Linked DNA regions of Homo sapiens: region 2 is linked to region 1. The links come from fine-mapping of genetic effects on gene expression. A gene starts in region 1. The other region holds a variant in brackets. All regions are shown on one strand. Distances are from middle to middle. Region 1 holds the start of RNASEK (ribonuclease K). Region 2 holds the start of SLC16A13 (solute carrier family 16 member 13).

Region 1 (5,194 bases):
CTATTTCCTCCCCCAGTTAAACCCCCTACATTAGTATCCCACTAGCCCAGGGGAGCAGTAAACTTTCTCTGCAAAGACTAGATCCTTTTTTACGCTTTGCAGACCGCATAGTCACTGTCTCAACTACTCAGCTCTCCTGCTGCAGCATGAAGGCAGCCACAGACAACATGGAAATGAGTGTGACTATGTTCCAATAAAACTTTATGGACACTGAGATATGAATGTTACATCACAAAGTAGTCTTCTTTTGGTTTATTCAACCATTTAAAATGCAAAAAAAATCCACAAACAAATGTGCTTTGTTTGAGACATGCACAGCCAGGCTACAGACTGGATTTGGCCCTTGAACCCTGCACTAGCCTGAGGCCCTGACCCTACTTCCAAAACATCCAAGATCATGGAGCAGGGGGATTTCTTAGAAAAATCAGCTTACCTCAGCTAACTCTCCATTCCCAGGAACTAACCTTCATGCCTGGTGGCCAATGTACAAATTCCTGACTCAGTTCTTTGGCAAATTCCTTCCACCCATATTTCTCCTATTCACCCATGTACCCCAAAAGTCCCTGAATAAGAATCATGTTTTTGGGGCAGAATACAAACCACTGCCCCAAAATGGCTTCTTTCTCCAAACAGTCCCAGATGAAAGGCACATAATTCATGTCTTAAGGCTACTTTTCCAGCCCCTTTAATACTCTGGGATCTATGTGTTTCCCACATTCCAAGTTATCTTTCACAAGCCTTTTAAGAACAACATGCACAAAATAAATGGACAAGAACTACAAAGTTATTCTAGCCAATGATAGTGTTTATTTGTTAGGTCCTGGGGTCTCAAGGTCAAATGATCCCTCTCAATTATTCTGAGGTCACTGTCCTCACTAGAGTGGGTACAACTTGCTCACTGCAAAACTGTGTTCTTCAAACATCCCTACTTCTTTTCTTTTCTTTTTTTTTTTTTTTTTAGAAGTAGTCTCTATCGCCCAGGCGGGAATGCAGTGGCGCCATCTCAGCTCACTGCAACCTTCGCCTCCCGGGTTCAAGGGATTATCCCGCCTCACCATCCCGAGTGGCTGGGATCACAAGCTCATGCCACCACATCCAGCTAATTTTTGTAATTTTTAGTAGAGACAGGGTTTCGCCATGTTGACCTGGCTGGTCTCGAACTCCCGACCTCAGGTGATCCGCCCGCCTCGACATTCCTATTTCTAAATAATTATTACAGATCTGTCACTCACCAGTTAAACATACAAACGGCTTTTTTGGAGGGGATGACCTATTTATATTTTTAAATCTTATATCCTACCTTATTCAAAAGTCCTATCAGTTTTCCTAGTTTAGAGAAGCAAAGTGACATTTTTGTGTACATTTAACAGGACTGCTTACCTTCACAACCTGCTCAGTCGGCTTTCCCTGGACTTCTCCTAACCGCCCATTTTTCCTGGATTTGGCACCGAGAGTTACAGTATTTCACGTGCGATGATAAAATGTTACTTAGGAGAAACAGTTCCAATACCAAGAAACTTCAGCAATTTTAAAGCATTTTAAAGCCACAAAACCATGCCCGATCCCCAAAAGGGGGTCCTAACTCCTTTACACTGTCAGAATCTCAATTTTAAAAGGGAGGAGTAGAGAAGAGATAGAAACGCTCTCTGTTGGTGAAAATCTGTCTTACTTACCATTTCCCCAACACAGGAGAGACTAAGGAATTTCAGGTAAAAATCAGATGGCTCCAATCCTCCGATACTAAGAGCCCATCGCCCCAGTTCCCAGGAGTTCCGCCAGTTAGACTTTTTCCCCCATGGCCTCGCTAAGGCTAGTTCCTCGTCACGTGACGTGACAGGCTTGGTCACGTGACATACCAGCTCCTTCCATTCCCGTGTGCGGGGGGAGGGGGACCAACAAACCGGAGGCCCTCGCTCTTCCAATACTCACGCCCTAGCTACAGAGGTCAAGGAAGGTTTCCCCAGGAGCAGTTTTGGTTTCAGACGGCGCCGTCTCCCGCGAAAGTCCTGAGAGGAGCCCAGCCTTTTCCGCCTGCCGCCCCCGGATGGGATGGTTGAGGCCGGGGCCACGCCCCCTCTGCCCCCCTGCGAGGGCATCCTGGGCTTTCTCCCACCGCTTTCCGAGCCCGCTTGCACCTCGGCGATCCCCGACTCCCTTCTTTATGGCGTCGCTCCTGTGCTGTGGGCCGAAGCTGGCCGCCTGCGGCATCGTCCTCAGCGCCTGGGGAGTGATCATGTTGGTGAGGGGACTCCCCGGCAAGGATCGGAGAGGGCCTGAGGGGCTCCGGGCTGGGAGGGCTGGGAGGCGAGGAAACTCTGGGCCGCAGGCAGGCCGGAGGGGCCGGGGATCTACAGGCCCCGGAGAAGGAGACAGACTGAAATTGAAAAATGGGAACTGTTCGAGACCAGCCTGACCAACATGGTGAAACCCCGTCTCCAATAAAAATACAAAAATTAGCCGGGCGTGGTGGCGCCCGCCTGTAATCCCAGCTACTCAGGAGGCTGAGGCAGGAGAATCGCTTGAATCCGGGAGGCGGAGGGTGCAGTGAGCCGAGATCGCGCCACTGCACTCCAGCCTGGGTGACAGAGCGAGACTCCGTCCCCAAAGAAAAAGAAAAAAGGGAACTGGAGCGGAGGGCCCTGGAGTGGGAGGAGCCAGGGCTGGTAAAGGTGGAGACCCCTCAAGGTAGGAGAAACAAGAGCGGGGTGCCTGAGAGGTGCTTGAGTTGAATGGAGGACATGGGAGGAAAAGAGAGTGCTTGTTCCAGAAATGTGTAGCTGGGCCTTGTTTTCCCAGTAATCCACCCACCGCCACTTCAAGAAGAAATGATATGAAGAAGTGCCGGTTCTCCCTCCCCTCTTCCGCACTGTCCCGTGATGATGACGCCTCCAGAGAGGACGATAATCTGGGTTCCTGGGAGAGATGGCTTGGTCACTATTCCCACCCTTGCCTCGACCACTTGTCTCAATGTCACCACCTCACGCCCTGTTCCAGGTGGCTGAGTCCGAATCCAGTAACCACCACCTCGTTTTGGTTAATCTCAGGCTCGGGTGTTGTAGCAACATTGGAAATGGGAGGGGTTTACGAAGTGAACATGAGGTCAGGTGCCTGAATTCAACAGTCTACCCATTCCCCTTTTCCAGATAATGCTCGGAATATTTTTCAATGTCCATTCCGCTGTGTTGATTGAGGACGTTCCCTTCACGGAGAAAGATTTTGAGTAAGTATTCGGGTGGGGGAGGCGGGCTGGGAGCAGGTGGGAGGTGGCGAGGCCTAGGGTCAGAATTACGTCTGGGAGGCCCGGTGCTTAGGGCCCCTAGGTTAGAGGACTTGGAGAGGAGAGCGGCTTTCTTGAGAATGTGGTTAGGAGCCAGGGAGTCAGACCTCAGCGGCCATCCCAAACCCACCACCTTAGGTGTGACCTCTTTAGGTATTTTACTTTTCTGTGCTTCTCAGTCCACCTCTGCAAAATGGCTATGACAGATCTCACCCCATAGGATGGTCAAGAAGATTGAATAAAGTAATACACGTAACAGCGCCTAAACAGGTGTCGGGCACATAGTGCTCAGAAAATGTTGGCTCCTATTAAAGTTTGACCCCTTTGCTTCATTCCCACCCCCAGGAATGGCCCCCAGAACATATACAACCTTTACGAGCAAGTCAGCTACAACTGTTTCATCGCTGCAGGCCTTTACCTCCTCCTCGGAGGCTTCTCTTTCTGCCAAGTTCGGCTCAATAAGCGCAAGGAATACATGGTGCGCTAGGGCCCCGGCGCGTTTCCCCGCTCCAGCCCCTCCTCTATTTAAAGACTCCCTGCACCGTGTCACCCAGGTCGCGTCCCACCCTTGCCGGCGCCCTCTGCGGGACTGGGTTTCCCGGGCGAGAGACTGAATCCCTTCTCCCATCTCTGGCATCCGGCCCCCGTGGAGAGGGCTGAGGCTGGGGGGCTGTTCCGTTTCTCCACCCTTCGCTGTGTCCCGTATCTCAATAAAGAGAATCTGCTCTCTTCAGCCCTGTGTCTGTGCTTGAGTGGGGGCGAGCACGGGGCTGAGACTAGAGGTCGGCCTCTGCCTGGAAAGTCCCGATGTCTGAGCGGAAGTGGAGCGAAGTGTGGCGCGGAAGTGAGGCGAAGGCTTTCCCCATCGACTGGGCGCGCCGAGCGGTCTAAGCGACTGCGTCTGATGGGGCGGGGAGCCGCCGGGTTGAGCCTATCCGCTGCGGGGAGGGCGGGACTTCCTGCGCGGGGGCCCGAGCCGCTCAGTCTCCCTGCTCTCCGTGGTCCCGGCTCGCGTGTAGCGGCGGCGGCGGCGTCTCCGTGAGGAGGCGCGCGGGGCCATGACGTCAGCGTCCACAAAGGTTCGACCTCCCTCGCGGACAGCGCTCCCTGGCGGCCACGGGAGGGCGGGCCCCCCACTTGGCTCGCGGCTCTTCCGCCCCGGGCGGGGGGCGGGCGGGAGCCGAGCCTGGGGTGGGGCTAGGGGCTCCGGGCGGGACGGGGAGGGCGGGCGCCGGCCCCCCGTGACGCTGCCCCGCCCCCAGGTCGGAGAGATCTTCTCGGCGGCCGGCGCCGCCTTCACGAAGCTCGGGGAGCTGACGATGCAGCTGCATCCCGTGGCCGACTCTTCTCCTGCGGGGTACGTGAGCCCGGACTGGGACGTGGACGCTGAGAGCGGGCGCTTGGACTCGGTCACAGACACGGACCCTCTCTAGCACAGGGACAGACATTAGTTTCCCTTTGTGCGTGGCACAGCACAGAGTCGGTGTTAATAAATGATCGTTGGGTGAGGGAATGAATGACAGATAAAAATACAGACAGGCCCATAGCCCAGACTCCTGTTTCACAGTTCTCCCTGCTGCGAACGGGTCGACCACAAACCACCGCCACTCCCAACCACCCCAGTTCATGGAATTCCCCCAGACGGCTGCAGGCTGTGTTGGTGGGTCTGTTTTGAAAAGCCCTTCCTGGCGAGTTGGTTTCAGTGTGCTGTGTACAGCAGCCGTTTAACGTTGATGGTGGAAAGGGGTGTCTAAGGTGGAGGTGGTTGTGATTTCTTGTGATTGGGGTCCTCCCGGTTCCCGCAGGGCCTCAAGAGCTTTCCGCCTCCCCTTACGGAGGACCTCTTTATGCATCCGTGGAAGGGGTCCCAGAAATCGGAAGGAGGCGGCTGGTTGGCTGTGGGATGCATAGCCTGTG
Region 2 (5,515 bases), 23 kb after region 1:
TGGAGTGCAGTGGCACGATCTCGGCTCACTGCAACCTCCGACTCCCTGGTTCAAGCGATTCTCCTGCCTCACCCTCCCGAGTAGCTGGGATTACAGGCGAGTGCTACCATGCCCAGCTAATTTTTGTATTTTTAGTAGAGACAGGTTTCACCATGTTGGCCAGGATGGTCTCAATCTCCTGACCTCATGATCCGCCCACCTCAGCTTTCCAAAGTGCTGGGATTACAGGCGTGAGCCACCCCGCCCAGCTGCTTCCATATTTCTATCAACATTCTAGTCATAAACACTTAACCAATCTCTAAAGAATTCCAAACTTTTCTTAGTCTTCTTGTCTTCTAAGACCTCTCCAGAATCTAGGCTTTTTCTAGCCTACTCCTCCAAATGCTTCCAGCCTCTGCCCATCACCCACTTCCAAAGCCACTTCATCATTTTCCGTTATTCATTATCAGCAACACCCCACTTCTTGGTACCAGTTTTCTGTCTCATTCAGTTCATTTTCTGTTGCTTACAACAGATTATCTGAAACTGGGTAATTTATAAAGAAAATGAATTTATTTCTTATAGTATGGAGGCTGAGAAATCCAAGGTCCAGGGGCCTCACCCTCTAGTGAGGGTTTTCTTGCTGATATGGACTCTCTGTGGCACAGGGTGTCACATGGCAAAGGGGGCTAAGCATGCTAATGTTCTAGCTTGGATCTGTCTGAAAAAGCCGACAATTCCCCTCCCATGATAACCCATTAATCTATTAACCTTTTAGTCCTTTATGATGGGGTTAATCTGTTAACCTATTAATCCATTATGGTGGGCTAATTCATGGGGATTAATTAATCCATTAATCCCATCCAATCACCTTTTAAAGTTTCCACCTCTCAGTACCGCCAAGTTGGGGATTAAGTTTCAATATGAGTTTTTGGAGGTAACATTCAAACCATCGCAGTGGTCGTTTCTCAATCTTTTTAAACCCATGACCTGGATTAGATTTTTTTTTTTTTTAATCAAAAAACAAAAACTAGGCAGGGCATGGTGGCTCACGCCTATAATCCCAGCACTTTGGGAGGCCCAGGCAGGCAGATCACCTGAGGTCAGGAGTTCGAGACCAGCCTGACCAAAATGGTGAAACCCTGTCTCTACTAAAAATACAAAAAATTTAGCCAGGCATAGTGGCAAACACCTGTAGTCCCACCTATTCGGGAGACTGAGGCAGGAGAATCACTTGAACCCAGGAGGTGGAGGTCGCAGTGAGCCGAGATCATGCCATTGCACTCCAGCCTGGGAGACAAGAGCAAAACTCCATCTCAAAACAAAAAACAAAAAACAAAAAAAAAAACACTAAACTAAAACCTTCCTTCACTTCCCACTACAGCAGCTTATCCCCTGTTGAAAATAACACCAATAAGACCAGCTAAGCTAATATTACTTGGCTCCTGCTGCATGTCAGCACATAAACTAAGCATTTTTAGTGCATGGATTTTCTAACTGAACCCCTTGGGCAACGCTTAATAGTAGGTACTATTATCCCCAGTTTACAGATGGGGAAACCAACTGAGAGATTCAGCATCTTGATCGAGTTAAGTAATAAAGTCAAGATTGGAACTGGGCCAGGCACGGTGGCTCACGCCTGTAATCCCAGAACTTTGGGAGGCCAAGGCTGGTGGATCACTTGAGGTCAGGAGTTCGAGACCAGCGTGGCCAACATGGTGAGACCTCGTCTCTACTAAAAATACCAAAATTAACTGGGCGTTGTGGTGGGAGCCTGTAATCCCAGAAACTCAGGAGACTGAGGCAGGAGAATCACTTGAACCCGGGAGGTGGAGGTTGCAGTGAGCCAAGATCATGCCACTGCACTCCAGCCTGGGCCACAGAGCAAGACTCCATCTCAAAATAAATAAATAAATAAATAAATAAATAAATAAATAAATAAATAAAAGACTGGAACTGTGATCTGATTCTAAAGACCCGAGTTCTTAATCACTATGTAATACAGCCACAGCAATTTCTGTATCTTTGGCATATTCCCCACCAGCCGACATTTTGACTCTTAGAAAGTATATATGTGTATTATTGATGATTACTTTTATTTCCCACATATAAAATTATTTAAGGCTCAATATGTCTTTTAAGACTACACACCTCCCTCCCTGCCTCCACTTCTTGTTTGCTGCTTTCCCCAGTAATCTGGGAGTGAACATTGAGTCCACGGTTTCAAGGTCAGGGTCCTGGGAAGTATGGCTTATAATGAAGGAACAGGAAATCCAAGCCATTGGTGTTATGGAGACTGGGAAGGACTGGGGAGTGTTTGCTAGGGGCCTGAGGACTACTTGGGTAAGAGGGGGCTGACTGCTCCAGTGGCCAGGGTCATAGTTTGTCTCTTTAGTCTACCCCACCATCAGATCAAAAAAGGTGGTTAGGAAGTGGTTGTTACTAGAGGGCAGAGGAAAAGGTTCCAGCCCCAGTGAGGAAGAGGTAGGTGGTGTTGGTGGGGCCCTGTGTGAGCTTACAGCCGCCCTTCCTCTCCTCAGTTATTTTTGGTCTCTGTGACCTGTAGGTTTCCTGTTAGTGGGAACAGAAGTGACAGGAACGAGTTCCCACTACAGAAATGAACGCCAGGAGTCCAACTCATTCCCCTTCTCTCTTCCCTTAGCCGTTGAACTTCTCAGGGATCCAGGCTTCTAGGTCTGCGTGCCTAGGGCTGCGTGTTAGTGGCTTCAGGCGCTGCGCCAAACACTTCGTTTGAGTCTCATCTCCTAACCCCTCCCCTACCCCCAACAGGGCCTTGCAATTCCTGGACCCCTCATTAAAGCAAGAGAGTCCTCTCCTCTCCAGACCCAGTTTACCCACCACTAACCCTTCCGTGTGGCTCTGGGTGCTGAAA[C/T]GGGGATGACTTGGCCCGCTAGGTGAAGAGGAGACGGAAGCTTCCTGGCAGTCCCCGCGTCACGTGGGGCCCTACCTAGTCAGCCTCCTAACGCCCCTCCTTACGCATGCGCCCATTCACTGCTGGTCCCCAACAATGCCTAAATCCCGCCCTGCCCTTCTCGTTCCGCCCCTGCCCGGGAGCCCCGCGTCCTCATTGGCGAGCTCCAGGGTGGCCCGGCCCGGACACCCCAGTGATAAAATAGATCATCTACACGGAAACTGGCGCGCTCCAGGGGTGGGGCCCAAACTCAGTTCCACCCTCTGGCTCCCAGCCGAACACCGAACCGGGACCGATCCGGCCCCGGCTTGAACTAGCTCAGCTCCGAGCTCGCGGAACCACGCCCCCGGGAGACTCTGGCCCGGCCAGCGCGGGCCAGGTCTTCAGTCCTATATCGCCCCGCCTTGGGAAAAGGTGCAGGGGCCTCTCGCCGCCTCGTCGGGCCCTTCCTCTCTACCTGCCTCTCCAACCCCTCTCGGCCCCGAGCCACCCGGCAGCGGGGGTGGGTGTGCAGAGGTGCGGCGTCCAGAACCCGGCTCCTGCAGAGGCTCTGGGTGGCAGCAGCCCTGTTACCGCTTAGATGGCGCGCAGGACAGAGCCCCCCGACGGGGGCTGGGGATGGGTGGTGGTGCTCTCAGCGTTCTTCCAGTCGGCGCTTGTGTTTGGGGTGCTCCGCTCCTTTGGGGTCTTCTTCGTGGAGTTTGTGGCGGCGTTTGAGGAGCAGGCAGCGCGCGTCTCCTGGATCGCCTCCATAGGAATCGCGGTGCAGCAGTTTGGGAGTGAGTGCGGCGCCTGGATCTGGCGGACTGCGACCCTCGGAAGGGAGAGGGAATGCGGCGACTGGGAAGTGGAAGGGCGAGGGGCGGGAGATGCTGGGGGGGAGACCCCTGAGATCTTCTCGCAGCGCCCCTTCCACTTCCTCAGGCCCGGTAGGCAGTGCCCTGAGCACGAAGTTCGGGCCCAGGCCCGTGGTGATGACTGGAGGCATCTTGGCTGCGCTGGGGATGCTGCTCGCCTCTTTTGCTACTTCCTTGACCCACCTATACCTGAGTATTGGGTTGCTGTCAGGTGAGAGCCTGCACAAGGGCAGGAGAGTCAAATGCTTAGATCGTTGGATGTTCACCTCCTTCCTGCTCCTTCCAAAGGGTTCGGGGAGAAGCTGAGGGAAAGTTTAGCTAGCACCTGTACCCAGAAGGGAATTCTTAATAGGAATGACTAAAGCGACAAACATGGTGAGGAATTAGGAAATTCAAGGATGATGAAACCTGGCCGGGCACGGTGGCTCACGCCTGTAATCCCAGCACTTTGGGAAGCCGAGGCGGGTGGATCACGAGGTCAGGAGTTTGAGACCAGCCTGGCCAACATGGTGAAACCCCGTCTCTACAAAAATACAAAAATTAGCCGGGCCTGGTGGCGCTAATCCCAGTTACTCGGGAGGCTGAGGCAGGAGAATCGCTTGAACCCGGGAGGCGGAGGTTGCAGTGAGCCAAGATCGCACCACTGCACTCCAGCCTGGGCGACAGAGCAAGATTCTGTCTCAAAAAAAAAAAAAAAAAAGATGAAACCAAGTATACAAGCCCAGAAGCCCAGGGCTAATGGGACTGGAGTGTAAAAGGAAGAATTACTATAAAATGGTGCTAGGGGCCAGGCACGGTGGCTCACGCCTGTAATCCCAGCACTTTGGGAGGCCGAGGCGGGCGGATCACGAGGTCAGGAGATCAAGACCATCCTGGCTAACACGGTGAAATCACGTCTCTACTAAAAACACAAAAAATTAGCTGGGCGTGGTGGCAGGTGACTGTAGTCCCAGCTACTCGGGAGGCTGAGGCAGGAGAATGGTGTGAACCCGGGAAGCAGAGCTTGCAGTGAGCCGAGATTGCACCACTGCACTCCAGCCTGGGCGACAGAGCGAGACTCCGTCTCAAAAAAAAAAAAGAAAAAAAAAGGTGCTAGGTACTGTGACTGTGAAATCGATATCATTATTGGATTTACAGCTGGGGAAAAGCTTTAAAGCTTATACAACTTGGCAAATGAAGGTCACACAGCTAGAAATGGTAGAGCCCAGGTCTAACTCCAAAGTTCTGTGCTAGTTACCTTACAAACTTTGTCTCTAATCTTCCACAATCCCAAAAAGTGTATTATTACATTTTGCAGTTGAGAAGGTTGAGGCTGGGGGTGTTAAGTAAAACACACAAGGTTACACAGCTATGAAGTATCCAAGCCAAGATTGTATCCCAGGTCTGTGGGACTCCGAAGCAAGTGCTACATTCTGCTGCTGGGCAATGCGGGGATTACTGTGTGCCTTGAGCTCCCTAAGAGTTCTCAACACCACTTCTTCCTTTTTGACAGGCTCTGGCTGGGCTTTGACCTTCGCTCCGACCCTGGCCTGCCTGTCCTGTTATTTCTCTCGCCGACGATCCCTGGCCACCGGGCTGGCACTGACAGGCGTGGGCCTCTCCTCCTTCACATTTGCCCCCTTTTTCCAGTGGCTGCTCAGCCACTACGCCTGGAGGGGGTCCCTGCTGCTGGTGTCTGCCCTCTCCCTCCACCTAGTGGCCTGTGGTGCTCTCCTCCGCCCACCCTCCCTGGCTGAGGACCCTGCTG

The links. PIP is the estimated chance that this variant, and not a neighbour inherited with it, causes the effect. A credible set is the group of variants that fine-mapping cannot tell apart.
Region 2: its variant is the best candidate, but not a certain one, in a credible set for the expression of RNASEK in whole blood (TOPMed, PIP 0.89).

Annotation. Positions count from the first base shown.
Region 1 is chr17:7,010,523-7,015,716 of GRCh38, forward strand. It overlaps RNASEK (ribonuclease K), which reads left to right and starts at 2,102. Exons shown (of 3, transcript NM_001004333.5): 1 at 2,102-2,239; 2 at 3,144-3,220; 3 at 3,623-4,010. The coding sequence starts at 2,162. The coding sequence ends at 3,764. ALOX12 (arachidonate 12-lipoxygenase, 12S type) reads left to right here. Exons shown (of 14, transcript NM_000697.3): 14 at 1-232. It overlaps BACC1 (BPTF associated chromatin complex component 1), which reads left to right and starts at 4,260. Exons shown (of 6, transcript NM_174893.4): 1 at 4,260-4,356; 2 at 4,540-4,634. The coding sequence starts at 4,336. It overlaps ALOX12-AS1 (ALOX12 antisense RNA 1), which reads right to left and starts at 1,812. Exons shown (of 3, transcript NR_040089.1): 1 at 1,674-1,812. It also overlaps RNASEK-C17orf49. RefSeq lists enhancers at 1,463-2,083, 2,163-2,282, 2,363-2,542, 3,722-4,222, 3,973-4,102 and 1 more and a silencer at 4,193-4,642.
Region 2 is chr17:7,032,892-7,038,406 of GRCh38, forward strand. It overlaps SLC16A13 (solute carrier family 16 member 13), which reads left to right and starts at 3,124. Exons shown (of 4, transcript NM_201566.3): 1 at 3,124-3,690; 2 at 3,836-3,979; 3 at 5,261-5,515. The coding sequence starts at 3,492. RefSeq lists enhancers at 2,563-3,063, 2,672-2,721, 3,452-3,691. The variant C/T (reference allele first, on the strand shown) is at 2,873.